Homo sapiens: one gene and its partners. The protein of the gene in region 2 interacts with the protein of the main gene of each other region in a pairwise test. Each region holds a gene or a part of one and is shown on either strand. Other genes may lie near its edges.

Evidence for each region.
Region 1: the proteins of CLTRN (region 2) and UBE2J1 interact in binary tests that used the Homo sapiens proteins (3 or more experiments, as listed by UniProt).
Region 3: the proteins of CLTRN (region 2) and SMCO4 interact in binary tests that used the Homo sapiens proteins (3 or more experiments, as listed by UniProt).

What each region holds. Positions count from the first base shown.
Region 1 is NC_000006.12:89,340,561-89,351,053, forward strand, and holds part of UBE2J1 (ubiquitin-conjugating enzyme E2 J1), read right to left. Parts: intron 3,197-10,493; coding exon 3,123-3,196; intron 1,896-3,122; coding exon 1,764-1,895; intron 1-1,763. UniProt on the Homo sapiens protein: Catalyzes the covalent attachment of ubiquitin to other proteins. Functions in the selective degradation of misfolded membrane proteins from the endoplasmic reticulum (ERAD) and is essential for cells to recover from ER stress.
Region 2 is NC_000023.11:15,660,281-15,671,585, forward strand, and holds the start of CLTRN (collectrin precursor), read right to left. Parts: upstream 4,526-11,305; 5' UTR 4,496-4,525; coding exon 4,438-4,495; intron 4,116-4,437; coding exon 4,057-4,115; intron 1-4,056. UniProt on the Homo sapiens protein: Plays an important role in amino acid transport by acting as binding partner of amino acid transporters SLC6A18 and SLC6A19, regulating their trafficking on the cell surface and their amino acid transporter activity.
Region 3 is NC_000011.10:93,538,422-93,549,077, reverse strand, and holds the start of SMCO4 (single-pass membrane and coiled-coil domain-containing protein 4), read left to right. Parts: upstream 1-5,686; 5' UTR 5,687-5,802; intron 5,803-10,656.

The DNA of each region.
Region 1 (10,493 bases), on a different chromosome or scaffold from region 2:
GGTGTGATTACAATTACCAAACACAACATTCATTTTGACTGATGAGAAAACAATTTTAAAGACATTGTGTAACCCACCCATAGTGTAATGGAAAGAGCACCAGTCAGAATCTAGGCCTATTGGCTCTTAAACAAATGTTCTCTCTGTTATACAAAATAGAGGTAAAAGCAGCATTAATTTGGTATTTATTTATTTATTTATTTATTTATTTATGTTTTTTTTTTTTGAGATGGAGTCTCGCTCTGTCGCCCAGGCTGGACTGCGGACTGCAGTGGCGCAATCTCGGCTCACTGCAAGCTCCGCTTCCCGGGTTCACGCCATTCTCCTGCCTCAGCCTCCCGAGTAGCTGGGACTACAGGCGCCCGCCACCGCGCCCGGCTAATTTTTTGTATTTTTAGTAGAGACGGGGTTTCACCTTGTTAGCCAGGATGGTCTCGATCTCCTGACCTCATGATCCACCCGCCTCGGCCTCCCAAAGTGCTGGGATTACAGGCGTGAGCCACCGCGCCCGGCCTAATTTGGTATTTATTGATGAATACCTGTTGTTTCACCATTTGCTACTCCGTGTGGGTAAGATGTTTAACTGAGAACAGGATGAAGGCTGAGGAGAAGCAGTGAGATTTCTCAAACTGGTCTCTGAGATTGGTGTAGTTTCATGTTTCAACAGGGCACTATGTGTGGAAGGTGGACTGCAGCAGGCCAAACTACGGAAAGGATGCCTTGGAGGTTACCAAAGAGAAAAATAGGCACAGCTTAAAGTGATAACAGATACAGGGAATGGTTTTTGTGTTTGTTTTTGCTTTTTTCAAGGTTAGGGGATAATTAAACATAGTTAAAGGAAATGAGAGAAGAAAAGCTTAACAATTAAAGAGGAATTAGATCAATAGTTTTCCTTGGCCAGGTATGATGGTGACACCTGTCATCCTAGCACTTTGGGAGGCTGAGATGGGAGGACTGCCTGAGGCCAGTAGTTCAAGACCAATGAGACCATGTCTCTACCAAAAAACTTTTTAATTAGCTGGGTGCAGTGGCATGTGCCTATAGTCCCAGCTACTCAGGAGGCTGAGGTGGGAGGATAGCTTGAGCCCAGGAGTTTGAGGCTACAGTGAGCTATGATCGTGCTACTGCGCTCCAGCCTGGGCAACAGAGAAAGACCGTGTCTCTTAAAAAAAAAAAAAAGTTTTCCTTCACATGAAGAAAAGATGTGTAAATTTGGAGAGAAAGAGAGAAAATCTGAGATATAAACAGTAATAATAATGCTAACACTTATTGAGTATTCTGTGTCAGGCTCTATTCTAAGAGCTATACAATAAGATCTTGATACTTTTCATCCCACATAAACTCAATGAGGTAGGTATCATTATTCTCATTGTAAAGATGAGAAAACTGAGGAAGAGAGTGTAAGAAAGGTGGGAAGTTAAAGGAGACAATATGATTACAAGGTACAATAACATTAGCTACCCTTTAGTGAGTACTTATGAAGTGCCAGATGTGTATGCCCAGCACTTGGCATATATTAATTCATTGAATCCTAACAACCATGATATGACATTTATGCATTCAGTTGTATCATTTTTACTTCTCAGATGCATCAGCTTCCTAGGAATTATTTTGGAGGAAAAAAATTGTAGTCCCAGGGCCTGGACCCCAAAAGCAAAATTATACTGTTCTATTATTTCTTAATGAAAATGATTTGCTTACTATATTTTGCAGCTACCAGGAAGAGTGAAGCCACAAGCACTCTAAAAATCCAAAATTCTTACCGTTAGGAGAATAATGCTTGGTGGTTTCATGGGATACTCTGGTGGCAGTACTATCCGCCCGTGATAAACTCCTCCATCAAAATCGGAGTCTGGGGGCCCTCTAACCGTGAAGTGCCATTCAAAAAGGTTATCCTGAACAAAAACAATAATCCACAAGGAATTAATAATATTGAAAAGTTTGATCATTTTATCTGAATATTAGAAATATTACCAAGCAAGAAAAATTAAATGCTTTATATTATTGCTAGTATAGTTTCTAATGCATGAGATGTCTCGAGACTATAAGTGATAAATTAAATTTATAAGTAAAAGCTATTTAATCTAGCTTTCATGTTCCATTGAGCTAAAATATTTTATAATAAACACATTAAAAATTTCTGAGTGTTGTTATATATTCATAAGTAACTTACAGGTTTAAATTGGAAATTAATCCTTGAAAGAATAGCAAATTATGATAATTATATAATCAAAAAATTACTATGTTTGGGTTATTTTAACAAATCTTTAAAAATTATCCCTTATAGATGCCTAAGAGCTTATTTATAAAATGGTAATACTAATGTATTTAATGTCATCTTACAGTTACCATGTACTTTTCAGTTTACAAAATACTTGCACTTAAGTTATGATATTTTTATTCCCACTGTTACCATGAAAACCTGCCTGGGTATATTTAAATACCCTCCTTTTACAAATGAGAAGACTGAGAGAGGCCGAGATGTTTATACAAAAAGCCTTGAGTAGCTACGGAGACCCATCAAAAGGCTTCCAAACTGTAAAGTATCTGGGGTTCTTTCCACCTCCCCTCCCTCAGACTCAAGATCTAACCTCGGCCGGGTGCAGTGGCTCACGCCTGTAATCCCAGCACTTTGGGAGGCCAAGGCGGGTGGATCACGAGGTCAGGAGTTTGAGACCAGCCTGACCAACATGGTGAAACCCTGTCTCTACTAAAAATACAAAAATTAGCCGGGCGTGGTGGTGGGGGCCTGTAATCCCAGCTATTCAGGAGGCTGAGGCAGGAGAATTGCTTGAACCTGGGAGGTAGAGGTTGCAGTGAGCCGAGATCACATCACTGCACTCCAGCCTGGGCAACACAGTGAGACTCCGCCTCAAAAAAAAAAAAAAAAAAAAAAAGATCTAACCTCAACTTAGCATCTGAGACCCATTTTATAAAGACCACAAAATCCGTTTCTTCTAAAGTGATTTGGAATGGCTAATGAAATATTCATGAAATATGGTGAATAAAACGTCAAACTACATCACACACATCTGTAATGACTCAAAGCAATGAAAAGCAATTTTAAAAAATTTGTTTTAAATATTAAAATCCATATGAAGAACATGGAGATAGAAACTAACCTCTAAAGGCTGCGCATGGTAATGATCTGTTGGATCTTTCAATTCTGCCGCTTCTTTCATTAAACGTTTAACAGCTAAAATAAAATTCATAAAATAGAGATATTTAAAATATACTTTTCTGAATGATTAGCACAGTCTTACGAGCCTAATGAAAAAATGTGTAGAGAACTAGTGCAAATGAGCATATGGCAAAGGTTTAATTATAAGATTATGGGAATAAATAGAGGGGGAGAGGAAGGAAACAGTTGCTAGGCATTAACACTTTAAAAGAGTTATATATTAAATATATAGTGAAGACACTATTTTTATTTAATAAGTACTTATATATACTTCCTATATGGTGGTATTTATTGAAGTGCTTTTACAGACATTAATAACTCATTTAACCCTTAATACAACATTACTAGATAGGTATTATTTTTATCCCCATTTTCCAGATGAAGAAGCCGAGACACGGAGAGATTATATAGTCACACAGCTAGTAAATGACAGAGATGGGATTCCAACACAGGCAATTTGGCTCTACCTGTTAAAATGTCTTTATTAACAAAAAATGTATTCTCTGGATCTCATGCTCGGTGAACAGGAAACACCTCTATATCCTCCAACTCTTGGGACTTTCCATCCACTATCTTGCATTAAATGAATGGACTGTCCCCTGAATTCACTGACTCTCCAAAGCCCCGATGAAATTCCTTCTTGAAATGATCCTTCAGCTTCACTAAAACCTCCAGTCCACTGACCCCACAACTTTCTTCACCCCTCCTATACTTATATTCATTTTCCTCTTTATCCACACCCTTGGCTCTTAGGAGTCCCTCTTGTACACTCCCTTAATAAAATCCAACTGTGCCTGACCCAACCCAACCATCTTATTTGCTGTCTATACCCAAACAGCTGAGCATCACTGAAAGGAGGAAAAAAAGTCAGAGAGGATGGTGCAGTAATGCCATTACAAGTCATTACCAACAACCTCTACTGGGATACAATGCCACCTAATGTCCCCACATTTCTCTAGTAGGCCTTCCAGCCTACTCTTTCCACCTAGCACTCCAAGATTATTTCCCACCTAGTCTAATTTCTCCTCTCTTTCAGTTAATGGCACCCAGCTTTTTATCTCCCTGATGAATGACTGCTAGCAGGAGCTGCTCAGATGCCTATCACAATCTACAATCCTATCTGTATCTGCACCCTCTGTCTTCTATTGGCTCTCAAAATTCAATCCTTTGATATGCACTCTGGATCCCAACCCCTCTCATTTCAAGCTTTTGGTGCTAAAACATGTCAGGATACTGCAGTGGGATGGCTGAGTTAGGGAAAAGGCTTCTCAAAACTGGGTTTGCAACCACTGATGTAGCTCAAAAGAGAGGTATGCACCAGATGCTGGGAGGACAGGCTGGGCATCTAACTTTAGAGCAAATGGAAGAGAAAAGGAGTCAGGTACTGAATGTGAAAGAAATAACAGTAGAAACTCCCCAGGTAGATATGAATAGGAAGAGGTAATAATAAAAGTAAAATGTGTAGAGGCACAGGTTGGAATGTTATGGGGAGAGAGATTAACTGAGAAGGAACCCCTACATGTATATAACCACAATGGTTTGGTATGTATCAAGACTTTTGCATAAAATTGCATTTGAGGCCAGGCGTGGTGGCTCATGCCTGTAATCCTAGCACTTTGGGAGACCGAGGCGAGTGGATCACCTGAGGTCAAGAGTTCGAGACTAGCCTGGCCAACATGGTGAAACCCTGTCTCTACTAAAAATACAAAAATTAGCCAGGCATGGTGGCGGACGCCTGTAATCCCAGCTACTCGGGAGGCTGAGGCAGGAGAATCGCTTGCACCCAGGAGGTGGAGGTTGCAGTGAGCTGAGGTCGTGCCATTGCACTCCAGCCTGGGCTTCAGAGAGAGACTATCTCAATAAAACAAACAAACAAACAAACAAAACCAGGCACGGTGGCTTAGGCCTGTAATCCCAGCACTTTGGGAGGCCGAGGCAGGTGGATCACCTGAGGTCAGGAGTTTGAAACCAGCCTGACCAGCATAGTGAAACCCCATCTCTACTAAAAATACAAAATTAGCCTGGTGTGATGGCACATGCCTATAATCCCAGCTACTAGGGAGGCTGAGGCAGGAGAATCGCTTAAACCCAGGAAGTGGAGGCTGCAGTGAGCTGAGATCGTGCTGTTGCACTCCAGCCTGGGCAACAAGAGCGAAACTACGTCTAAAAAAAAAAAAAAAAGCCCTCCAGGCCGGAGGGCAGTGGTACGAACACAGCTCACTCACTGAAGCCTCAACCTCCCAAGCTCATGCAGTCCTCCCACCTTGGCCTCCCCAATAGCTGAGACCACAGGCATGCACCACCATGCCTGGCTAATTTTTAAATTTTTTGTAGAGCTGGGGTCCCCCTGTCTTGCCCAGGCTGGTCTCGGGCAATCCTCCTACCTCAGCCTTCCAAAGTGCTGAGATTACAGGCGGGAATCAGCATGCCTGGCCAAAAAAAAGTTGTTACTATCCTACTTCACAATTATTAATATTCTTTTCCATTTCTTACTCTGAACTAAGCCCCTATATGCAGAGACTTTGTTCACTGGATCATCAACTATTTCTTGAGTTCCTACTAGGTACTAGATGCTACAGCTTCATGCGTAAACAAAATATGGCTTTGGTCACTAAAGACTGACGGCTGGGAGGTGCAGTCAATACAAAACAGAATGATAAATGCTATATTAGAAATATGTACATACTGAGACACCCTCTCCCTCCAAGTCTAGAGACTGGGCTTTGGTCAATTCCCTGAACACACTTTACCTCCCCTCCACTCTCAGCCTTTCTATACAGCTTTCCTCAGGGCCCAGGCTGCTCCGGCCCCATCCTCCGCCTCACCGTCTAGTCTGGCTACCCTAGACCTTTAAGTAACTTCTCAGGAATGTCTCTATGACACCTTCCCTGGTTGCCCCCTGCCCCCCACCCCCTACAGTGCTTGGAGATTTCAATCTGGGCAGATCAAAATCTCTGAGGCGTCCTAGGGAGGGGTAGAGACTAGGAATGCTCTCTGAATTACTCTGGTTAGGTTTAGAAACCACTGCCCTAGAGACCAGGTTGAGTCTCCTTGCTCTATGCCATCATAACACTGTATTTTTCCTCTTATGAAGTTCATCTCACTTGTAATTACTTGTTTAATATCTGTTTTTCCTGCTAAGCAATAGTAATGACAGTGTAGCTGTAGCAGTACAGTCTCCTCAGGGCTTAGCACATGGTAAGTACTCAAATATTAGTTGAATTAAATTTTACTATCTTCTCTCAACATAGCTCTCAGAATCCGATTAAAGGCAATGGTTTTTAAACTTACTTAATAAAACAATTAAACTTATTTAATAAAACAAAATCCTTCATTCAAAGAAAGCTTAATGAGAACCCCAACAGGTGAAACAAAAACCACAGAGCCGCTTTGGTTGCAGAGGCCAGTGGAAGGGCCTGCGGACTATCTACTCCCTGTCCTTCCATTTCACTCCTGAAGGGACCCATAGAACAAAGATGGAAAACCCTGCTTTAAAGCCACATAAACATATCATTCCTTTAAGTTAATATTATTAGATAGAAATGCAATTATGGAAGCTGTTATGAAGTTAATTAGTTTGGAGATGCCAAAAAGATTGTTTTTCCTTCATTCCTCGTCAACTGGCTGAACTCAATAATGATTAAGCTGAAGTCAGATTTTATGTCATTCTATACCCTTATCGCATTTTCTCTGCCTCTTCCCTACTCAGTTCAGTTCAACAGGAGAGAAGAAAATAAACACTCAAAACTTGTACCTGGATATTATGAGAGATGTATAAAGGGTCAGAATTGTTATAAGAATGTATCTGTACCAATCCTGTAAAGGAACAATCATTGGTTCAACAGCTAAATAGCTAATTAGTTCATAAGTCACTCAGGCACATACCATGTAAGAGCTAAGGTCATGTAGCCAAAAGGTGAGATTAGTCTCTTGTTTCCATAAGCTATTTTTTTTGCAAAAATAACATATATTATGAATGCTTCAGTGAAAAGAAACAGGGACTCGATTTAGAGCTGCATTAAAATTCTGACTCTGACATTTTGTAGCTCTAAGTCCTTGAACAAGTCACTTGATCTGATGTTTACATCTGTCAAATAAGAGTCAATAATTTCTCCACAAAATTCTCCTTTCCTTTTCACCCCTCCTTCCTGCCCAGTCCCTGAGTCATTAAGGTTGAAAATGGACTGGTATATAAGGCCTTCTCAATGATTCTTCCTAACTCAAAACCATGCCTCAGCAGATTTCGCTGGCCTTATGATATGGCTCCCTGGCTCCTGAGGAGAAATACCACTGTTAGGAAACAGTCATGGTTCACAGTGCTGCCTGGCAACCGGGCTACAGCATAGTCTGCCCCTCCTGATACTCCATCTCTTGCTTCTACATGGCTAGAGAGGAAACTTTTATTCCAGCTCCTCTCCTATCTCTTGGAAAGGTTTTTCCATGGAATCCTTTCACTGTGGTGAGATAAGATGTGCCAGGAAAGGAAGGGGTGGCACCTGGATGCCTGCTCTTGTTCTTCTTTCTTATAGAGGCCACATGGACACTCTGGAGCCATGCTCTAGGTGCTGTGGGCCTAGGCATTAGCATTCTTCACACACCTTGGCTAGCTCACTAGCCTCACATTGGGGTTTGTATACAGCTAAAAATAAAGGGATCTTCTACAGGCCACTGCTTCCCATATATGGATTCCTCTTCAAAAGCAATTATCTTGATATTATCAATTCCCAAAGCATGAGTGAAATGCAGGAGACAGGTATATTAAGGAAGGCATGCTCCCTAACTGCCTCTTCCTGCTCCCATAATGAAGGTACTTAAGCAAATGCCTACAGAGTGATGTTTCTGCCCAGGAGGACCCTGCAAATGTATCAGTTCAACAAACATTTAAAGAATGTCTGAGTGTTGGAGATAAAACAATGACCAAGACCTGCTTCTTGTCTTCCGTAACAGTCAGTAGAGAAAGACATGAAAATAATTACAACCAAGTGGTAATATTGACCAAGTATATATGTACAAGTATATATAGGAACTACTTTAGTCTGCCTAGGGGAGCTAGACAAGGCTGAACCTTAAAGCTTGAAGAACTATAGGAATTTCAGATGGATTTAAAGGAAGGCATTCTAAGCAGAGGTTCCAACAGGAACCAAAGCACCTAAGTGAGAAAAGCTACTCCAGCTAGAGAGTCATTCAGGCAAAATGGATAGGTAAAAACGCAGGCCTGGTGCAGTGGCTCTCACCTGTAATCTCACCACTTTGGGAAGCCAAGGTGGAGGGAACACTTGAGCTCAGGCGTTTGAGACCAGCCTGGGCAACATGGTGAAACCCTCGTCTCTACAAAAAATACACAAATTAGCTGGGTGTGGTGGCACACACCTGTGGTCCCTGCTACTCGGGAGGCAGAGGTGGAAGAATCACTTCAGCCCAGGAGGTTGAGGCTGTAGTGAGCTGTGATGGCACCACTGCACTCCAGGCTGGGAGACCCTGCCTCAAAAAAAAAGAAAATGAGGAAGAGCATAAGAGTGGTGGACAGTGAGGCTGGTGAGGAAGGGCAGGGTCAATCATGAGCAGCCCTGTAGGCCAAGCTAAGCAGTTTACTTTGAACTTTATTGACAGCTATCAGAAAGCTACTGAAAATTTTTCAATTTGGGGGTAATCAGTTTTTGTTTTGATTGATCTGGTGACAACAGTGACTGATTAGATATATGTGTTTCTGTGTGTGTATTGAGTTGTGTGTTTCAGGGCAGGGATGGAGCAAGGAAGCGACCAAGAAATAAAAAATGACTCCCATAGGTGCCTGAGTGCTGTCTATCCCTGAGATATGAAATACTAGGGTAAACTGCAAGTTTAGGGGAGGAGAAGAAAACTGATGAGTTTTGTCTTTATACTTACAGAGATTTTTTTCACTCTATGGGAAATGAAGATGTTGAGTCACCATAAGTTCTGTGTATCTATAGCTTACGAGAAGGGCCTGAGTTGGACATGAAACCTTGAGTGGATTAGTGGGAAGGTGCAGTTGACACCAATGGCATGGATAGGTAACTCTTAGACTTCTGGTGGAGGCAGTGGGTACTTTTGCACCAGTCTCTTATACTCCCACCACCTGCTGCACATGTCAATGGCCCCCTGATGAAGAAGCTGCCAAAGGAGGTGCTTTATACACATTTCTTCACTTTGTACTATAAGACCCTACTTCCTTGGCCAGAGCAGACCCAAACACGGGTCAAGTAGCTTGATCCATAGACAACTATTGACAGATTATAGACAAGTAGCATGATCCATAGACAACTACTGCTACTACAGTAGCAGATCCATAGACAACTACTGACAACTACCACAGACAACTACTGTGAGGTGATCCTACACAACAGCTCTATCCATAATCACAAGTCCATTCCAAAAAAAAACCATAAAGCAAAAAGTTTCCCCACCTATGAAATGAAAAAATTTACTATATCCACATGCTAGTACACTGGCCCTTAACCAGCTATCTGTATTGTCTTCACTTAATCTTTCCACTCATACATCAAAGACAATCCCACATCAGATAAAGAGTAAAAGATTATATCCCTCACATTGTGTGGTTGTTTTTTGTTTGTCTGGTATGTTGGTATTTTACGTGTGTGTGTGTGTGCACCCTGCCATACACAGGAAATTGGAGTTTTCAGTTGCTCCCCTTCACACAGGCATTACTCTAAAAATACCACAGGACTGAGAATAAAGCAAAGGAAGGAAGTATTTTCACAATGCCTCCCAGCATTTTCAGTAAGTCCCATATCTTACCTAATTCAACTTCTCCATGAACTCCAAATAATTCACACACTAACAAAAATAGATTTTTAAGAAGCATTGTGTTTTTTTTTTTAGAGCAGCAACACTATCTTTGAGGAAATGAAACCAGAAAAAGGAAGCAATTTATGACACAGCTAGAAGCATGTCAACCAAAGCTCAACCAGCTGACAATAGTTCACATACTTTGGAAATATACAAAATTCTGGAGATTTTTAAAAGCTTATCATCATAGTATTAAGTCTAACCTATCGAAATTGAGCGATGTTTTCTGACAACAATCTCTTGGGTTCCACCAGTTCTCCATTCTAAACTGCACTACTACTCACATGTGCATTATCCTCTGGACCTTTCACTAAGCACCTCTGCTGTCCTAAGGAACCGTGTGACCAGGGAGCCACCATACATTTTTACCCAAACAGCTCCAGTTAAATATACCACAATGTAAATAATTCAATCATTTTACCATCTAGCTTAAAAATTAAGCTTTTCTTTCCCTCTTTCTCTTTGGTCTTTTCTTCCTCCCTCC
Region 2 (11,305 bases):
GTACTTTTTCCTTTCTCCTAAATATTTTCATAGCATATTCTTTTTTTGGAAGGGAGGAGGGATGGGGTCTTGCTGTGCTGTCCAGGCTGGTCTCAAATGTGTGGCCTTAAGTGATCCTCCTGCCTTGGCCTCTGTAACATAGAACCTTAAACTTTCTTCAGTTGCTTCTTCCACTTCACCATTTTCTCCTTCAGTCCTACCTTATGTAACTCTGCTGTAAGATGTTACCATAAAGAACAGAAAAGGGGGACAGGAGTGGTGGCTCAAGCCTGTAACACTTTGGGAGGCCAAGATGGGTGGATCACTTGAGCCCAGGAGCTCAAGACTAGCCTGGGCAACATAGTGAAACCCCATCTCTACCAAAAAAAAAAAAAAAATCAGCCAGGCGTGGTGGCATGCACCTGTAGTCCCAGCTACCCAGGAGGCTAAGGCAGGAAGATTGCTTGAACCTGGGAAGTGGAGGTTGCCGTGAGCCAAGATCATGCCACTGCACTCCAGCCTGGATGACAGAGTGAGACCCTGTCTCCAACAACAACAACAACAACAACAACAACAACAACAACAAAAGAATGGAAATGGAAAAATCACTTTTCTCATATGCAAATGTTAAATACTGCATTTTAATGTCAACTTTAGATCTTATTTGAAGTGCTCCTTCAATGTTTTGATGTGAACTTTTCATTTGATATTATACTATGAAAGTTTAAAAGTAACTGATTGGTGGCATAGCTCTTTGTTTTTGATAATGCATTTTTTTCCAAAATTAATTTTATTCAGAATAAGAGTAGCTATGATCTAACCTAATAATAAATGAATAAAACATGAAGAAGAAATGGGTCTGATTAAAAATGGTGCAGAAACACTATTAAGACAGGGAAGGCTTATTAACAGAATGCAGACACAAGGAATAAGCCTGCTCAAGAACAAATGAGAATAATAAGCTCAGTGCAGAAAATGAAAATAAAGATGTTAGCCAGCTCTCCCTGGGACATGAATTTCAGTTGCTTTTCAGATCTTGGGGACAACTTGACCTGATCTCCTGTCCTTCCATTTGTTCATCTCAAAAACAAGAGCATAAGCTGGCTGGGTAGGAGTCCAATTTTGGTCACAGAACAAAGGTCCAAGCTACTTAGATCAGAACAGAACTGATGCAGTTCTAGATTGGGTTGGGTATCCTGCCAGTGGAACCAACTTATCTTGGGCAAGTGTGAAAAGGATTGAAAGCTTGTGCATTGGACGTAGTGTATTTCTCCCAGGGCATTCAAACACTTCAAAGAGAGAGCCTCCGCTTATAAAAGGAATTGAGCACATATATTAATGAGAAAATGTACAACTTAAGAGAGGATAAGGTAAGAGTTACTAAAGCTAAACATTTGTATACTTTATGATCCATTAATCTACTCCAGGGTAAATACCCCCAAAAAAGAAGGCATATGAAAAATACACATATAAGAATGTCCATAGCAGCTTAACTACCTGTTGTGCGTATACTTGACACATAATAGGTGCTCAATGTGAAATTGAACACATCTTTATATGCCACGTGTGGCTTCACAGACCAAATGGTACAAATTAATTGCATATATTTATCTATCAGTTTAGATTCCTTGGTTCCTCATTTCAATAACATGTGCCAGGACCTTAAATGCCCCAGCTCACCTTGCTTTTTGCACACATCTAAGAACACTCAAACCATGGCTAACCCCACATTTTAGGTAAGTAACTGGTATAACTAGAGACAATTACAGAACAGGGTTAGTTGGTTTAACTCTAAATTCATGATGACCTACCCCCAAATTGCCTGGGAATCCCTAAGGTTTCACCATCAGTTCTCTTTCTCATGGGTCACATAACTATTTCAAACCTCTCTCTAGAGAGAGAACTGATGGTCAATGCTTTTTTTTTTTAACCATTTTTCCCAATGGTTTCCCTCAAACCTCACTCTCACTAAATGGTTTTGCTTCATAATTTATAGATACATCTCATCAATTTCAACTCTCCCAACCTCCTGACATCAAGATACAACACTTCCTCCATAGACACGTCTTAGCCGCCTCCTCTCCTGAAGTGCCAGACAGAACTATGCCTATCAGAGGCCATTTCCGTCACTTATATTAGGAATGCTTCTCCTCTGCCCTTCTCAGATCTAAACAATATCAGTTCCCCTCCATTCTGTGTATTTAGCTCTGACCGGAGTCTGTTCATTGTCTTTTAACCAAGCTCAAGACTTTCTCATTAAAGCCATAGCAAAGAGCTGTTGTTTTGCAACAGCAAAAACAAATCATTTTACTCAGTCTTCCTTTCTTCTACCTACTGCTATCTCTTTCCTGCCCTTCACAGCCAAAATTCTCCCAGGAGTTGTCCACACATCTGTTTCAACATGTTCACCACTCATTTATTTTTTAACTCCCCACTATCTGTCTTCCAGCTCCTCCACCCCACGAAAAGAGCTCTTTCTAAAATCACCATTGACCTCCATATTGTCCAACACAATGAACATTTTTCAGTCGCCTTCTGGCTTGGCCTCTCAACGGCATTTGATGCTCTTGAACCCTCCCTACATCTCAAAATGAAACTCCCTAACACAGCCCACATATTCCTTGGCCTGCCTGCTCCTCTCTCTTTAAGCTCATCACCTGCCATGTTCCTCCTCACTGCCCCAATTCCAGATATTTCTGCCCTCTTTCTAATCTTTACTCTCACCAAGATCCTTCCTGTGATAAGCCTTTGCACATGCTGTTCCCTCTGCCTTTCCTTCTTTCATTTCCTGTAACACTTCAACTCATGCTTCAGACATCACAGTAAGTGCCAGGTATTGTGGGCCTTGACAAAGCCGAAGTGCCCTTGTACTTCTTCCCGTAATACTTGTCAAGATTGCACATTTGCATTTGGTTTACTGAATATTTAATAGATGACCAATTCTACTACTACTATAAGCTCCACAAGGGTAAGGACAAGCCTTAATCACCATTACATCCCAGCATTCAGCATCGTACCTGCTATTAGAGGATACTGGGATGGCCAACCCTGCACACTAGTAGAGACAGTGTATTCTGCACTCAGACTGCCTGGGCTCAAATCTTACTTCTGCCACTTGCTGACTTGAAATATTGAGCATGTTACTTAATTTCTTTGAACCTCAGTTTTCTCATCCATTCAGTGGGAATACTAATACCTGTACTACTATCTTCCTCAAAGCATTGTTGTGAGGGCTAAATGATTTGATAGGAGTAAGGTGCTTAGAAGAGCCCCAGCTAGAAAGTAAGATAAGTTCTCAATAAATGCTGGCTGTTATAACAATCATTACTCATTGAGTCAATAATAAAATACCAAATTGATGAACTGGCCTGCAAACAGAATACCTCTAAGTTTCTTTAGCACTCTTTTTTCTGTTTCTATGCCTAAGGCATCTTAACGTCACCTTCTATTGGGGAAAAAATTTTGCAGACCACACTAGGAAACTGAAACTAGAATTAGACAATACTGTCTTTTTAATTCAATGATCTTTACCATTCCTATAGCCACATGGGCCCTATGACTATTTTTTAAACTTCTATTTCATAAGCATATATTTCATATGTTACTTTGATAATTGAGAATAATTGAAGAAACTTCAGGTTCAAATTGGAAATTTTTTGTGCTATGAAAGACTTTATGTGGGTAGAACTATCCCTTATTTTCAATGGTAGAAAATCGAGGCTAACAAAATTCAAATGACCACAACGGTGAGGAGTAGACCCAGTCCAGACCTGAACGACTGACTCAGGCCACTTGGCTTCACTATCCCGAGTTGAGATGCTGGTTTTTTAAGTTGTTTTGTGTGGCACAAAACTTCACATGTTGCCTAGCATACACTACTGATTAAATACTTTAGGCAAACCTACTTTATTAAAAATTCATATTATTCTATAATCTATCTTTAAGAAATCAGATTTGAGGTCTTTAGAAATAATTTATTCAAGATTAAGGTAACTATGCAGACAGGCCCATTATTAGAGAAAGCACAGTGTTATTAGCAAACAAAATTTAAAAAGAACACTCAGGTGCTCCACTTACTGCTTTATCTCCCAGAGCTGTTCTGATACTAAGTCTCACTTTAAAAGCATTTTCTGCACCTGCCAGAAAAGAAAAAAGAAAGAGCAGTATATGATGATTAGGATCTGCCAAAACAGAGTCTGAAAAATCCTAATATGTAATGCAACTCAAACTAATGGAACAAAGAACTACAATTAAACAGCCCCAAATACTCCTGGAAGTTTAACCTAAATCATCTTAGATGGTTTAATATTTTCTTTCAAACTCATTAAACACTCACTGCCCCAACTTTCAAGCCACAACATGTCTGCAGATTTAGAAAAATAAAGAGTTCTTTCAGTCGATGACTTGTCAAACATGTAGAAAACTGTTCATCTATTTTTAAATTTCAAGGCTACATACCTGGTTGACAGAGTTCAGCATGAATGGCAGTCACCAGAAAAAAGAGCAGCCACAACATTCTTTCAGGGTGGAAAACACAAGGCAAAGTGAGAAAAAAAAAATCCACGCTGCACTTAAATCTGCCTTAGCCATTCTGTGACCCGGATTAGAATATCAGAGAAACAAGCGAGCCACCACCAAAAAGGTTTAATGATTAACACCCATCATTTGGGTTAATACTTCCATAAAAACAGCCCATCTCCTGTCAGTTATTTATGAAAACCTGTTTGGAAAACAGATTAGTTGTTTTCCCTACTCTGACTCTACCTCAAAAGAATGTCTTCTTTGCTGACTCAAAGTTGGAATCCTCCCCGACCCCTTCTGCGATTCTCTGGTTACGTGTATGATGGGAAGAATTGAGTCCTGTCTAGAGGTTTCCTTGACATGCACTTCCCACCTTTTCGAGGCTGAGATACCTGGTTCTTAGATAGGCTATCTTCATTCAGGAAACAAACGTGACTCCCTTCTCTCTGGTAAACAAAGGGTGCCCTCCGTGAAGGGCCTCACCTGACTCTCACCACAGCGGGTGAACATCCCAGGAGAGCTTCGGAGCTTCCTCTTACCTACTTAAGGTTAGAGGGTGGGAGGAGAGAGAGGATCGAAAAACTACCTATCGAATACTATGCTTATTATCTGGGTGACAAAATAATCTGTACACCAAACTCCAGTGACACACAATTTACCTATACAACAAAACTGCACAGGTGCCTGCACATTCACACATAGGGAATGATTGTGTTCAGCCCTGAGGTCTGGCACTTGAATTAAATCAAAGTTAATGATACAGAGCAGCACTGTCCAAGGGACATTCTGTGGCGATGGGAATGTTCTGTGTCTGTACTATCCAATATGGCAGCTACTACAGGTAGGAGGCCATTGAGCACTGGAAATGGAGCTAGTGTAGCTGAGAAATGGAATTTTTGTTTAATTTAATTTAAGTAGGCACATGTGGCTACTGACTACATTGGTCAGTACAGCAATACAACAGTAATTAAAAGTTACCCACTCTGAAGTACCTTCACTGGGTTATTTCTCTGATCCTCAGACACTTCACAATTGTTATCATCATCTCATACGGGAGGGAACTGAGGCTCCAGCGTTGAAGTCATTGGCAGCAATGGGATGAGTGGGATGGGTGTCACTTTACCAGCTAGGTTGACTTACACTTGAACCCTGTCTCCACCACACCCAACTGCTCTGTGTCTCTGGTCACCATTGGTCAAAATTGGAATTGATCAAATACCACAGTCTCACTGATAAGTGGGAGCTAAACATTGAGTACACATGGACACAAAGAAGGGAACAACAGACACAGGTACCTACTTGAGGATAGTGGGTGGGAGGAGGGAGAGGATCGAAAAACTACCTATCGAATACTATGCTTATTATCTGGGTGACAAAATAATCTGTACACCAAACTCCAGTGACATACAATTTACTTATATAACAAACCTGCACATCCACCCCTAAACCTAAAATAAAAGTTTTAAAAAACCCTGAAGTTGCAACAAAGCCTCAGAGATGCTCTGAGAATTAAGATAATGCGTGTAAAAGAATCTTTCCCCGGTGGGCATTCCACAGATGCCAATCAACGCCCCGCCCAGAGGTTGATGTCAGGACTTTCCTCTCTACCATGCTGCCTCTTCATAAATTCAGTCCCCAAATTCCACCCCATTCCTCAAAAGTCATGAATGGCAGAATTAGATTGGGTGACTCTGGTGTTAAATAGAAACATTGGATTTTCAAAGCAACAACGAGGAAAATATCAACAATGAGACTTCTGCAGCACTTTGAGAAACACATCATTTCTCCCTCCTTGCGAGGGTGGTATTTTATTGTAAAGGACCCACATCCATCAGCTAAATCCAACTGAGAAAGCTTTTTCTCATCTCCTTCACCTTGGTTGCAAGGACACGGAGTCAGGAAAAGCTGTACTAAAAGGAGAGGGAGCCACAACTTAGTCCAGCCATCCTAGCAATGTCACTGTATTAGGTGCAGTGGAAATTTCCAGAAGGAAGAGCTCACCTAGCTAACATCTGAAAAAAATAAAGCCAGACTAGATGAAGTCATCTTGGGAAATGTTAAACTAGATAAAGTCATCATGGGAAGGAAAAGTCAATACACATAGAGATTGTAACAAAGCATTTTACTTACATCAAGGAAGAAAGCTATGCTAAGAACATAGAAATCTGCTTCAGCGGCTGGGCACAGTGCCTCACACCTGTAATCCCAGCACTTTCGGAGGCCGAGGCAGGTGGATCATGAGGTCAGGAGTTCAAGACCAGCCTGGCCAAGATGGTGAAACCCCATCTCTACTAAAAGTACAAATAATTAGCCGGGCGTGGTGGCAGGTGCCTGTAGTCCCAGCTACTCGGGAGGCTGAGGCAGGAGAATTGCTTGAACCCGGGAGGCGGAGCTTGCAGTGAGCCGAGATCGTGCCACTGCACTCCAGCCGGGGCAACAGAGCGAGACTCCATCTCAAAAATAAATAAATAAATAAATAAATAAATAAATAAGAAATCTGCTTCAGCTTTCCTTTAGCCTTACACTTCATAAAAGTATCAAGTGGCTTTCTTTGGCTTTTACTTAGTCATTGATGTAACTCGGGTTGAAGACAATAGAACACTGAGTCTTAGTGTAAGTCATTCATTTGAGAAGACAATCTCTTTTGAATGATGGTTTCTCAATGTTTGTTGTATCATCTTTTCAAAAAGAGCAATAGAAATTCTTTTTAGAAAATACAAAGCAGCACAAGGAGAAAAGTAAAAATCACCTGTAATTCCATCAGCGTCAACGAATGACCAATTGTCAATGTTTTCTAAATATTTGGAACATATCTTTCTGCCTTGTGCTTTCTTTTTTGTGTAAATACATGTACATTTCTTCTTAAAAACAAAACTGGGGTCATGCTATTATGCAGCTTTGTCATCTTTGTTGAACTTAACTGTGTTTTGTTGTTGTTTGTTGTTTTTTTTTAATAGAGACAGGATCTTGCTCTGATGCCCAGGCTGGAGTGCAGTGGCACCATCTTAGCTCAGTGCAGCCTCAACCTCCTGGGCTCAAGCAACCCTCCTGCCTCAGCTCCCAGAGTAGAAACACAGAATTCTTCTTCAGGTTCCTTTAGTCTTGCATTTCTTAAAAGTGACAAATTTCTTCATAAGCTTTTAGTCATCTATGTAACTAGAATTGAAGACAGTAAAATATTGAGTTTCAGTCAGTGTAAGCCATTCATCTGAAAAGGGAAGACAATCTCTTATTTCATTATGATTTCTCAATATTTGTGTTCTCATTTTTAAAATGATTGAAAAAAGCAATAGAAATTCTGTATAGACAATATAGAGAAGCAAAAAAAAGTAGAAAACATCCATAATACTACCAGAATGGATGACCAATGCTAATATATTTTCATAGTTAGAATGCGCCTTCCTTAGCCTTGGATCTCTTTATATGTTCTTGTAGGATGTTGTTTTTTCTCACTGCAGTGGCACTATCAGAACAGAGTAATACAATGATGGGAATAAGACGCACCCTTGTCTTCTTCTTTACTCTAATAGGAATGCCACTACTGCACGGAATCTGGCAAGTGGCTTTAAAAATGATGTGTCATGTGATACGAGCATTATATTTGTAATTACAAAAAATTATTTTCCTCAGTAATTGGTGTTGCATTTTATCAACTGCTTTTCACTATTAAAATTTTTACCATTTGGTGTATTACATTAATACATTTTTCACATTGATTCAATTCTTAGATAAAACATTTTTTTAATTTATTTTTAGTATGCTGCTGGAATCAATTCCTGGTTTTTCCCCTATGATTTTTAAACCTATTTTCTTAAAAGAATATCAGGTAGGTTCCTTTTCAAGTGCTGATTCTTGAAGCGTTTTTTTTCCTAGCCTTTACCATCTTGAAAATGATACAGAAAGATTTCTAACATTGTCTATGTTTAGAAATACATATAATGTACCAGAAATAAAGAGTTCACAGATGAAGAATCTGGACCATGTGCATTTTAGAGGAAGAGTTCTTCAAAATTTTTCATTCCTTACATTATCATTTATTTCAGGTTTTATACCTCTTTCTGAATCCATTTTGGCTGTTTACAATTTCCAAGAAAATATTCTGTTAAGATTTTCTAGTATCCTCATGGACTTTATAGAGTATTTCCCATAAAATATCTACTTTTGTTGTTATGTTCTCTTTATATTTTCTAATACGTGTATTAATTTTCTCATTTTGATTATATTATCTTTGTTGTTTAATCAAAGAAGAAGATCTTGGACATAATTTGCAATTCTTTCTGTTTTTTGATTCATAAATCTTATTTATATTGGTTACATACTGTAACAAATTCATTGTTAAATAGTTTGATGGAGATCTCAGTAAAATAAATGGAAAACAGAACTAGATACTAGGGTTCTTGCCTCTCAGCATATTATATTTTCCTATACTTTTCAAAGTCTTGCACAAATTTAGTGCTTGTCTTGATGTACAAGTTTTAAGTAGTAAGTTTCCAGAGCCTTCATATCTGTATAAATTGCTTCATAAAATGCTCATTTCAGCAATTTCACATATGGGAGCTTCATAACTTATTAGTAACCATGGTAATGATGACAAATAAAGCAGTTCAATCATTCTGAATATGTTACTATTTACTTCCAAACGTTCAGAGTTTAGAGCATGTAGATTTAAAAGTTCAGATTACTGTTGCCATGAGCCACACAAAAGGGCACTGAGTCTCCTGAGATGGGAAAACGAAATTGATTTCTCCGTGTTTTTTATACTCCACAACACTCTTGAAAAGCACTTTCTGGGCACATAACTATGGATCTACTGCTCTGGGGTAAACAGAATATGAGATCACATGAAAAGAAAACACATGTGTCGTTCTTTTGATTCATGCAAGATCCCTTAAGTTCACTAGATTCGTATAAATACGTGGGCGTATGTAGGCTCCATTCACCTCCAATAAAGCAAGAGGTGGAGATGACCAATGTTTCTTTTAAAATTGACCCTGGTTATTTTGTTTCATTATCAAAAACAGAAATTTAGTAAATATATAGCTCCTAAAATTAGTAAACTGTAAAACCATCTCAAATGTGACATTATTCTGTATATTTTTATTGGATTTTCAGAAATGTTATCTGGCTGTGACACATTAAAAGAAATCAATTAAAACTTTTAATAATTGAACATAGAAACTTTGTATAAGATTTTAAAACTTCACACTTTTTGCTGCTGGGCATGGTGGCTCATGCCTGTAATCCCAGCACTTTGGGAGGGCGAGGCAAGCAGATTGCTTGAGTCCAAGAGTTCAAGACAGGCCTGGACAACATGGCGAAACCCCCTCTCTACAAAAAGTACAAAAATTAGCCAGGCTTGGTGGCATGCACCTGTGGTCCCAGCAACTTGGAAGGCTGAGGCAGGAGGATCACCTGAGCCCAGGGAGGTTGAGGCTGCAGTGAGCCATGATTGTGCCACCACACTCCAGTCTGTGTGACAGAGCGAGACTCTGTCTCAAAAAATAAAAAAAACAAAAACCAAAAACAAAACACACACACACACACACACACACACACACACACACACACACAAACCCCTTTGGAAGTTTTAATATCTTAATTAAATGGCTCTACTCAATGATTTCCTAAATGTTGTAGAATTTTAATAAATGACATCCTTCCTTGTTTAAATTGTAATGAAATGGATATACTATATATAATAAACAATATCAAGATGTTTGTATTATTAATAATTTATACAATGTTTTCAGTATAATTAGGCAACAAAAATAATTTTATTCTCTTTAAATTGTCAGTGTTAAGATACATGGAGAGACAAAGTATTTTTGTCTATTGTGTGTAAGTTCTATTTTAACTCAGTGGTTTTCAATTGGGGGTGATTTTGTGCTCCAGAGACACTTGGCAACGTCTGGTGACATTTTTAGTCATCATGAATGGCAGATGAGAGGATTCTACTGGCATCTAGTGGGTAGAGGCCAGGGATGCTGCAAAACACCCCCACAAACTTTAAAAATGTCATTTAGGTAACTCTTTTCTTCTTGTAGTTGAGTTAATGGAAATAACCCACACAAGGAAGAACAGAAGAAAAAAGGGAGACAAGTGTGTGTGTGTGTGTGTGTGTGTGTGTGTGTGTGTGTGTGTGTGTGTGTGTGTGTGTGGTTTCTCTAAGGCTAAGAATGTAAAAATATATACATTGCAATGCATTTCATGGTACTTAATTTCCAGTCACAAGCTTATTAGAACTTCAGTTTATGATTCAAATTAGTCAACTCAGTTTTCTTAAACTATCATATTCATGGGCTACGAGAAATGCAAAAATGAACCAAATATAGTCTCTGCCCTTCAGGAACTTACAATTTTGTAGGACACAAAAGTAAATCACGATGGCAATAGATGCACATACAATTGTGAACAAAATGCTATAGGAACACTGGAGAAAAAGAGGATAAAAAGTTACTGGATTTGACAAGTCAATTATAAAACTGTTAACAAAAGAAAAATAGAAGAAAGGTTTCTCAATGATAATCAAGATAGACCTGGAACAATGGCAAGATGTTTAAAGATAAAACATGAAAGCCCACAGGATACAAGTTAAGGAAATCTGAAAACAAACACAAAGGACAGATACAGGATATGGCCAACAGCAGGGACTTGCTGGTAGAGTGGTTCAGAGGAAGATGGGGGAGAGAGCATCAGTGTAGATGCATCTGAAAAGCCAAGTTGGGTTCTGATCTTAGAGGTCAGAGAGTCTGGATTCTCCAACAATGGTCCTGAGAGGCTAATGAAGATTTCAATGTGGGAATGG
Region 3 (10,656 bases), on a different chromosome or scaffold from region 2:
GAAAACTAAGGACTTCCTAGAAGCAAATCAAACGGAAAAACCCCAACTTTCTACGACCAAGTAAATAACTCTGTAACTCTACTTCAGCTATGACAGGAAATAACCTCTTCATACGCATAGAGTGTACACCAAATAAATAACTTTGCAACTTCACTTCAGCCTCTTTATTTATGCAGGGTATACACCAAGTAACCAGTGGGAAACCTCTAGAGGGTATTTAAGCCCCAGAAAATTCTGTACCCAGGGCCCTTGAGCCACCTGCTTGAGGCTGTTCCCACCCTGTAGAGTTTCATTTTCAATAAATTTCTGCTTTTGTTGCTTCACTCTTTCCTTGCTTTGTTTGTGTGTTTTCTCCAGTTCTTTGTTCAAATGTTCGAAATGCCAAGAACCTGGACCCTCCACTGGTAACAACCAGACCTCAAGTCCAGGTCTTCCTTGTGGACAGGACAGAACCAAGGCCCAGCTCCCTCCTGACCCACAGCCACAGATGTGATTCTGGCAGTGAAGTCCCCTTAACCCCATGTTTTAACCACTGGAGTTAAATGACTGCCAAGTAGGTATGAGGCAGAAAAGGAAACAGGCTACATGATTAAAACATGAGAAACAACAAAACAACAACAGTTGATTTTCTGATGGGTCTGAAGCCTTTGCAGGGATTGTCCAGGTCTCTGAGATTATAAAGTGAGAATTTCTGAGGCTTTCAGATTTCATAGACCAAAACCATTACAAAAACATTTTGGGAGTGGGAATGGAAACTGAGGCTGTCAACTTTTTATTTTGCCAAAAAATGACCAAAACAAAAAACCCACATCCAAATGATTACAAATATAATAATCATTGATACAAGAATTGCATACATTTAGCTTTACATTGCTCTGATTACTCTCATTTTACCTCTGAGTTGTGAAAAACCTGTCTGTGGATTTGCAGCCATCGGCAGATAACTCTGGAACTTCTGCTACAGAGAATGCACAGCCAGGCATGAACAGGGGCCAAGGGAGTAGGTTTATGAACATACATTCCTGACCTCAGCTCCTGGCAGCTGCAGTCAGGCAGCAGTTTTGAGGGTTCCTACTTCTGCAAACATTCTGAGACATGCAGACCACCATTCTAGGCCTCCCCCTCTTACTTCATTACTTGCATAATTTATCCCTCAAGGACAGTACAGCATAGCACAACACATGGCTTATCTCTGATGCACAAGGTTGTGTTTCTTCATTTATCCTGCACACGAGTCTTTGTCCTCCCCACAGCATCACAAAGGGACCCAGCAGAGAGAATCTTCCACAGCCTACACTCATTATATTCTCTTTGTCTTTTCTCCTTCTTCCTACAAAGTTAATATCACATGGATTAAGTCAGAAGACTCACAAGGCTTATATTATTCATTCATTTGTTTGCTCATTTATTGATTGATTTAATACATATTTATTGAGTTCCTGTATGCACCAGGCTCCATGCTAGGTATTGAAGGTATAGTAGTGGGCAAGCAAACGCAGTCCCTTTTCTCGTGGAGGGAGAATTCGAGAGACACAAACACATGAGAATATGTAACTATAAAAATATGATGAGAACAGTGAAAAAAACAAGGAGTGTCATGAAAGCGTGCAACAGATGGGGTGGTTAAGAAAAGCTTCTCTGAGAAGACGACATTTAAGGCAAGGCCCGAGAGATTATGTAGTGGACATTCACTGGTTTTGTTATCCTTGATCAACTTTCCCTTCTTTGGTAACAATGCCCTGATGATTATGTTTGGAGGCTTTCATTCAAGGTGTCCTGTTCTTCTCTGGCTGAGGGTAGGCATGTGGCCAAGCTAACCAAGGCTGACGTTCTTCTAGGGTTTGGAATCTTGAGTGGAGTGATGCAAAAACAGAAAAACCAGAGTGGCTTGTTCCACTGGTTGAGCCTCAACAAGGTGTCTGTTAGGAATCAAATCTCCATAAGATTCCTGAGCTGTTTGGTCTTTGAGCTTTCCAAAACTTGGCTGAAGAGACTGAGAGCTACCTCTATGTGCACCAAATTTTTTTGTTTACATTATTTCCCAAATAATGTACCACAGAACTCTAATGGGTTCTGGAAAGCGGGATTTAGCAAAGTGAAGAGTTTGGGAAAGAGCACGTCAGTGGAAGGAACAGCATGTGGAAGGGGCTTTCTGTGAAGAAGAGAAGAGCTTGCTGGTTTGGGGAACAGAAAGAAAGCCAGTTGGGCAAAGTGTGCTGAGTGAGGGGCAGAACAGTACCAATATCTCTGTAGGGGCAAGCTGCACCAGACCTCATGGGGCCATGTATAATCGTTTAGATTTTATCACCAGCACATAGGAAAGTTACAGACATATTTTGAGCATGGGAAGAATATTTTAAATAGCAAAAATGTCACAAAGGAAAAACAGAAGAGTTCAACTAACAGCGTAAAGAACTGTGAATTGGTCATCCCAGTTCTGCTCTGAGCCAGCTCCAGGACCTTGGATATTTGTAAGGCTCTGATGATTTCTCTTAGCCCCAGTTTTCTCATCTGTAAAATGAGGTGGTGGGTTAGATGATCTCTAACTCCATCTCTGATGTTTCGTGATCTATGATAAAACCATGCCAATAAATGTAATTGTCATTAAGGAGCTTACAATCAAGTGGGAGAGATAAACACACCTAACCTCTATGATACCTGCTGTTGATGTTCCAGGGAGTTCTAACGTTTAAAGCTTTTGGTAGCTTACAAGCTGATTTTGCCAGCCCATTGTTATGTTGACTGCCAAAGGATTTTAAACAGTACTAGGCTCAGTAACCAATTCAATGAAGAACTTTCAAAGAGGGTATTTACATGAAGTGTGATGCTCTGCTAAGCTTAGATTTAGTGACTTCAACTGAATGCTTCATAACAGAAAACGCTAGCAAGAGTACTGATTCTTGGGTGAATTTCATCTAGAACTTGTAACTGCAGGAGTGCCTGTGAGTGATCTGTGTGTCAGTTATCTATTACTGTATAACAAACCACCCTAACACTTAGTGATTTGAAACAACCACCATTTTATTTCTCACAATTCCTGGGTTGGCTGGACTATTTTTGGCTGGCTTTCCCTGGAGCTCACTCATGTGGCTGAGAGCTGGTGGGCTGCATAGCTGGGACAGCAAGGCTTTCTCTTCTCAGGGTCTTTCCTCTTCAAGGAGTTGGACCAGGTTTCTTCATGGCAGTCTCAGGATAGCATTTCAAGAAAGCAAGGAGCAAGGCACAAGTGCACATCGAAAGCCCCTGCTTGTGTCATATTTGTTCATGTCCCAGTAGCTAAAGGAAGTCACAAGGCCAACTCCAGGGTCAACGTGGGAGGGAGCTACAGAAGGACAACTCAGTAGGGGTGATTCATTAGAAGCCATTAGTGTAAAATGTGTAAACTTTTCCTCTGAGACTTGCATTGCAAGATACACAACTCTAACCTATAAAGGATGACACTTTCTTTTTCTTTTCTCTCTCTCTCTCTTTTTTTTTTTTTTTTTTTTTGAGACAGAGTTTCACTCTTGTTGCCCAGGCTGGAGTGCAGTGGCATGATCTCAGCTCACTACAACCTCCGCCTTCTGGGTTCAGGTGATTCTCCTGCCTCAGGCCTCCCAAGTAGCTGGGATTATAGGTGCCTGCCACCACGCCCAGCTAGTTTTTGTATTTTCAGTAGAGACGGGGTTCATCGTGTTGGCCAGGTTGATCCCGAACTCCTGACCTCAGGTGATCCACCCACCTCGGCCTCCCAAAGTGCAGGGATTACAGGGGTAAGCCACCACGCCCAGCCAAGGATGGCACTTTCACAGACACAATATCTATGTTATTACTACTATAAGGGAGCATGTGGAGTCACCTTATTAAGGGACTGAGTCCTACATCAGTGGCTCTGCTTGCCTCATAAAATTATTCATTAATTTTTAGCAGTGGCCTTGGGAAGTTGTGTACATAATATTTAGAGGAAAATGGCATTTACAATGATAATGAATTAAAGCAATTCACACGGCAGTACCACTGCCCCAATTTAAACCTTGAGGCTTGCTAATTTCATATTTAGCTGCATCCCATATGCTCCCAATCCCTCTGCCCTAGTGTGGAGCTACAGCTCAAACTCCTTTGAAGGTAGGAAACTTACCTCACACACGCGTGTTCCCCTCATTCTTTCAGCGCATAGAACACTAAAAAGATGCTCCTTAAATACATGCTAAATAAACTGATCAATAGTTGCCTTTTATTAAATATCTTTGTGTTTCAGGTATTTCCTTATTTCCTTCACAGACCGGATCATGAATGATCTCCCAATGTGACAAGGTCTTATTCTCCACAGTTTACCGTTGAGGGGACTGAGGTGCAGAAAGCCCAAGGTGTATGCAGCCCAATCCCCTCTGATCCCACTCTACTGCATTGCTGCCTTTTGTACGCAGCAGGAAGGACACTTCCTGTAAAAATGAAAAAAAAAGCCTTAAGTTGTTTGAGAGAGGGTCAGGAAGAAAACAGGAAGAGCCAGTAGACTGCAGGTGCTTTCAAAGGGCTCCCTGTCTTTGACATCCCTAAAATAAAAACTTGTTAATTAAGAGATTGGCCACAGAAATCCAGGTGGAAAACCTGCAGAAGAGTGGGTTCCACAATTCTTCAAAACAGAACAAAAAAACCCCAAGACTTGTTATATTTTTACCGGTGGAGGGGAAGAGGTTACAGGAGTGGCCTTGCTCCCCGGGCTGGCCTTGCTGAGCAGGTGACAATACCACACATATAAAGGTTTTAAGGTGAAAAGGTAGTCAATATTTTACATTTCGAAGATAGTTTTTAAAATCACCTACTGCATCAGTAGTAATACAACAATAACTACCATTTACATACCACCGCACACATCGGGGCTGCGTAAAGAACTTTATAGTGCACCATCTCAATTAATTCTCACAACTCTGTGAAGTAGGTTTTATTATTCTTAATTTATAGACGTGTTCACTGTGGGCCAGGGAGATGAGCTTTCCCGCGATTGCCCAGCTTTTAAGAGGTAGATCTCAAACCTAAACGTGTTTGACCAAAAGCCCTGAATAACATTTAGCCGTGGGCCTCTTGCGGATTTGGCGCTGGTCCGAGGTGGGGAATTGTGAATCTCATTTATTTATGCTGAGCTGCGCACACATATGCACGTGTAAGTTACAAAAAACAAATCCAGGTCAGGATCTCTGTCCGCTTGAGGTTTCAAAGCCTACTTGGGTAGACAGCGGTAAAAGTCTCAACTCATTCATCTACTCGTTTGCTCTCTTCACAAGTATTTATTGCGCACTTCAGTATTCCAGACAGGGCGCTAACCTTGCCCTGGAGGAGAGAATGGTGAACACAACAGACATGGCGTTTGCCTCCAACTATCCCCTTTCCGATTCTGCTATCTCACGGGCGAGGCGTTCAAAGAAGCAGGAAATATATCAACAAGGGGGTGACTTAAGCACCCGCTGCGCGGGAGCCGGAGGAAGCGCGCTGAGCCTGCAGAGGTGGTCAGGGCGAACTTCCTGGAGGCAGCGGCAGCAGCAGGCCGGGCGAGAACCCAGGTCGCTCGGAAGCGACAGTCTGAGCCGGGAACGGGGAAGAGGGGGCGGGAGCCGAGGCCCGGGCGGGGGCAGCCAGCGAGTTAGGGTTAGGACGGGAGGATTCGGCTTCCCGGCGGCAGAGGGCGCCTGGCGCTGCGGTCTGGCGCGCCAGAGTCGCCCGCGCGGGCGCCGAGAGGAGAGGCGAGGCGGGGAGCGCAAGCGGCGGCGGCCACTGCCACGTATTCCCGGCAGTGGTGGCGGCGGCGGCGGCGGCGCCCGCGGGCAGGTGGGCTGGGAGCGGCGCGGCGGCGGCGGCGGCGGGGCGGGCGAGCCGGCGGGCGGGCGCGGGGCACGGGGCACCGGGCACCGGGCGGGGGTGCGGCGCCGGGACAGTACGGTTCCCGCCACGCCGGCTCCGCCTCCGCGCAGTGCTGCTGACCCAGGCCTGGGCGCCCGGCGGGTCCCGAGCGCAACTCGTGCGGGCGGGGTTGGGGGCCCGAGGGACTCGAGCTCGCCTGCCCGTCGCGGCTCGAGACGCTGCATCCCGGTTGCTGCGGGGCGGGGGCTGGGAAAAGTTGGGGCGGACCGCGAGCCCGCGGGGCCGGGCGGGAAGTGCGGGTGCGGGGCGGACTCAGGGGCCGGGGGACGCAGTGCAAAGGGCTTGGGCCGGGGCGGCCGGGAGGGCCCCGTATGGGAAGGTGGGAAACGCGGGTCCTTTGAGGACGCCGAGAAAGGGGTGCGCTCAGGGTCTCTGGGAGTGGACAAGAGTCCGGCGGCGGACCTTGCGGGTGAGAAGGGTCGGCGCCTGGGGGTCGGGGAGTAGAGGTGAGGCGGGGGCGGGATAGAGCCTTCCTCCTCCCCCGTTCTTTCGGGACCGACCCTGAGACCCGGGGCAGGCTCCGAGCTGGGTACGCCTCTGGCATCTGAAGACCCAGTGGGGAGTTCCTGTACGGGGTGGGTGGAGGAGGGAGCTGAGCGTTGCTTCCTCTGCTGCTGGGGCCGACTACCGCCCCTCCCCAGCGGCCAGATTCACCTCAGACTGCAGTGCTTTTGCCCTGAGGAAGTTGAGGAGGGACAGCTGAGCGGATGAGATGTTTGGGGTGTTCCAAGATGAGTGGGATTAGGCTGCATGATATCATAACTATCTCCGGGAGCTGTCAGAAAACACTCCCATGTCCTCATACACCCACCCATCCACTCATCCAGTCAGTACTGCCAAGCTCCAGGCTCCCTTGCTCTTTAAGTGACACCTCTAGATCCCCAGAGCCCAACAGCGCATCTGCTCACAGCCTCGAGGGTGGCAAGGGTGGAAGACATGGCCTGCTAGTGTCTGCGTAGGTTGGTGCTTTCAGAAACAAGTGGTTCTGGAGGTGCTGGATGCTTTATTAGAACAACCTGTGTGGAGCCCGTTGACAATGCAGATGACTCATGTTGGCTTTTTTTTTTTCCCCTTTACAAATAAACTTTGTATTCAAGACACCAGTATGCCTGGTCATTTGCAGCAGTGATACGGCAAGAGACCCATAGTGGGCTTCTTGAGCCCTTATTCTCGTCCTAGATGTGTTAGCAAGAAGTTTGACCTTGGATGAGTCACTTGCTCTCTCTGGACTTCTGTTTTCTTATCTGTCACATGGGGTATAAAGAGAGAGCTCGACAGTGTGATGTAGACAGGAGTAGGTTTCTGAGGGACACAGTGAAATCTTTTTTCTTGTAAGGCTGGATCAGCCACAGAAAATAAGCCTTAGCCTGTTCTTATAAAGAAATTAGCTTAGATTTAAAATAAAATATGAGAAGAAATATTGCAAAAAGCAAAACAACAAAAAACTAATAGTAGTTGGTACTCGATTTACAACATGAATACTGTTCTTATGCTTGCAGTTAGTGTACTTGGTTGTCCAGCTATCTACTATAAAGTTGCTCATTGTGCTTAGAAAGTGTGTATTTCACCTGTGGACCCGAATTTTTTCTTATTGTTTAATCTTCAAGCTTGGAGTGGACGCTCAAGCTTGGAGTTGGATTGGTCCTGCTGGGGTTTGTCTGAAGAACATCCTCAGGGTCTCTCATTGCATAATATTATAGGTTTCCTTCTGTCTGACTGATGCTGGGGTCCTTGTACAACTATGCTTCTGCCATCTTTTCCATTCTGGCTTGAGAAGTGGTGAGCTGGTTCCTCTTGCCTCTGGCATGCCCAGACTTCTCATTTCTTTTCAGATGAGTGTAGTAAAAGGCAAGCAGTGAGTTAGAGGCAGCACATTAAAAATTGCTCCAGGCAATCATCTGTGTCCCCTCCACCCCGCTCCTGTCCCCTAGACCCCCTGGGCAACTTCTCACTAGAGCTTCCTGGTCATAAGCTGGCCTTGACATTTTGGGTGCTGAGGGCCATCACAGCATTGAAGTGACTTGGCCAGGGTCACACCACACATTAATGATCAAGCCATGGTGCTGGAAGAAGAGGAATTTTTTTTGTGTGTGTATTTTGTCATAACTGAATGTTCCTGTTCTTGTCCATTAGTAGCTTTCAAAATCCATATTGGGTTTGACCACATCATTTTCAGTAATCCTTTTTTGTCAGCTTTTTGGAAGCTGCAGTTAGTGGTTCTCTCTGAGTTTGAGGTAGTGGTATTTTATTATTAAACAATTTTTTCCAAATATTTTTTAAACTACTTTCCTTTTCAGACCAGATGAGGTAGTGTTAAAAATGATATCTTCTCCAACAAGTAAAGGCTTGATTAATTAGGTTGAGTCTTTAAAATATCTAGTGTTTGTGTGTGTATAAATTTTACTTTAATTGAGAAGTATTGATAAAAATCATAATCGTCACCATTTGAGCCCCTGCCATTGAGCAGGCATTGTGAGGTAGGAGTGAGCATCATTTTACAGGAGAGAAAACAAAGCCAAGAGATGGCACGACTCTGGTACAGCTGTCGTGCATAAGTTACTGATGATCTTTCAATCCATGTACCATTTTGTTAACAGTGGAAAAGGAATTCTCAGCTATCCTACAGGGTTGTGCTAGTTAAATGAGATACTGTATGTGAAGAGCAACAAGTAAACTCTTAACGGGCTCCCTAACCCAGCACATTTTAACATAAACACTTGTAGACTCTGGAAGCAGTGTGGTGAAGTGGTTAAGTTCAAGCGTCTTGGGAGTCTGGCAGGCCTGGGTGTAAATACTGAACCTGCTGCCTGACCTCTCTGAGCCTGGTTTCCACATGTGTAAAATCAGGATAATACTGTCTGTCTTATATTCAAGAAATGTACCCACTAATTGCAGTGGGTGCTGAGTAAAGATTGGCATCCACTCCTTTCCCTTGCACACAGGTACTTGGGTCAATGGGATTGAGTAAGTCTTTCAGCAGTTGTCCTCAGGGGGAAAAGGCTTAAAGTACTTTTTGTACTTATCAATGATTCTTCTAGCCTTTTTGCCTTCCCACCCTAAGCCCCAGCACGCGCAATGAATATTCCAGGGCCTGTGATTGTCTTGTCCAAGGGAATTGAAAAAATCGTAAGCCAGAAAGGACAGGTCTTTGATAGAAAGTTGAAAATGGATGTAGCTGGTTTCCCTTTGCCCATTTTGTGGCCTTCCTCCTTTTTTTTTTTTTTAAATTAATTTTGTTGGACAGGGAAAAGATACAGAATTCAGGGGGTTCTAGCTGGAAGGGGGCCCTGGAAGAGCCTATAGTATAGGGCAGCTAGAGAGAGGAGTGGGCTGGCTGACGGTCAAAGCTAGTTTGGTGTGGGGGAAATTTCTGTTAGATGCAGGATTTGGCTTAATATGGGACCAATTTCCATCTAGTCCTTTAAGGCCCTCTTTTGGGACTCTGAAGTTTTTGTGCTCCAGGCAGATTTTGACTGGTTGTGGTGGCATCACAAATGAGTTTCCATAGTAAATTGTATGCTGAAAGGAAATTAAATTCCAAGAGGGTGTTTGTTGTGACTGATGCCAGAATTTCCTCTGAGAATTTTATTAACATTCAGTCTGTGAAAGTACTTCTTAGTTCTCTGAAGATAATAATTAGGAAATAGTTTTTAAAAAGTAGAAGTGTCGTCTTTGTGAGCTTTTGAAATGTCATCTTCCTAAATCTTTGGAGCAAATGAGGCTCAAAACATCATAGAGACTTATATTTTAAAAGCATTTCTTCCTAAATGTACTGTTTTCCTTCTCTTCCTGTTCCTTCCGTCCTCCTACATTATTTTGATAATGAGTTAATTTTGGTTTCTTTCACATTGTGGTGGCCTAATTTTTAAATTTATGACCCTTCATTTTTAGATCTTGCATGTATTTTTTTTTTTTTACCCTTGAGTCAATTCTCATTGATTATGAAGAGCTGGTATAGCAAGATGGGAAAGAGAGAGGACCCTGGAGCTAGGTTGGTGAGATCTAGGCTCTTTAGAACTTGGATTCGGTCCTCACAGTAGCTCTGGGAGGCTGATCATGCTATTCCCAACACACAGATGTGGAAATGGGTGCAGAAACACATGTGTGTTCACATAGCCAGCAAGTGGTTTATCTAAGTGTCACTGCAATGATCTGTAGGACTCCAAAGCCCATGCTTCCAGCTGGAAAGGCAGGCAGGGGCCTTGCATGCTGTGCCAGGGTTGGGACTTAGTCCTGTAGGCAGAGAGGGTCAGGCCTGTATTCTAGAAAGGTAGCTCGGTGGCTGTCTGGAGTTTTGAAGTGAAGCAAGTAGAAATTAGGTGTAGAGAAACTAGTTCATTAAAGTAATGTCTTGAGAGATGAGGGCCTGAACAGAAGACATTAAGACAGTGGCAGTGGTTGCGGAGAAGAGGGGGCTTGTTGGAATCCATAGAGCTTAGTGCCTTTGGATACTAGAATTGCATCATCCCTTCCCATTTCAGGTCTGATGCCCCAGGGATGGGTGTTGGAGATGCTGACTATGTGCAGGCTAAAAGCAATCTCTGCAGAAACCAAAAGTGCCTCCTTTGGTCTCTGCTAACAGCTAGAGAAAGGTGGCTGAGCACAGTCCGAAAGGGCCTTCCCTTCCCTGTGCCACCCCAGCCTTATCATTCCTAACTTTCCAGGAGCATCGCAGAGAATGAAGTTGGATTCCTCAGACTGCATTTTGGGAAATGCTAGTCAAGGTTAGAAGTGTGGAAGGGAAGACGCCTTCCTGGGGTA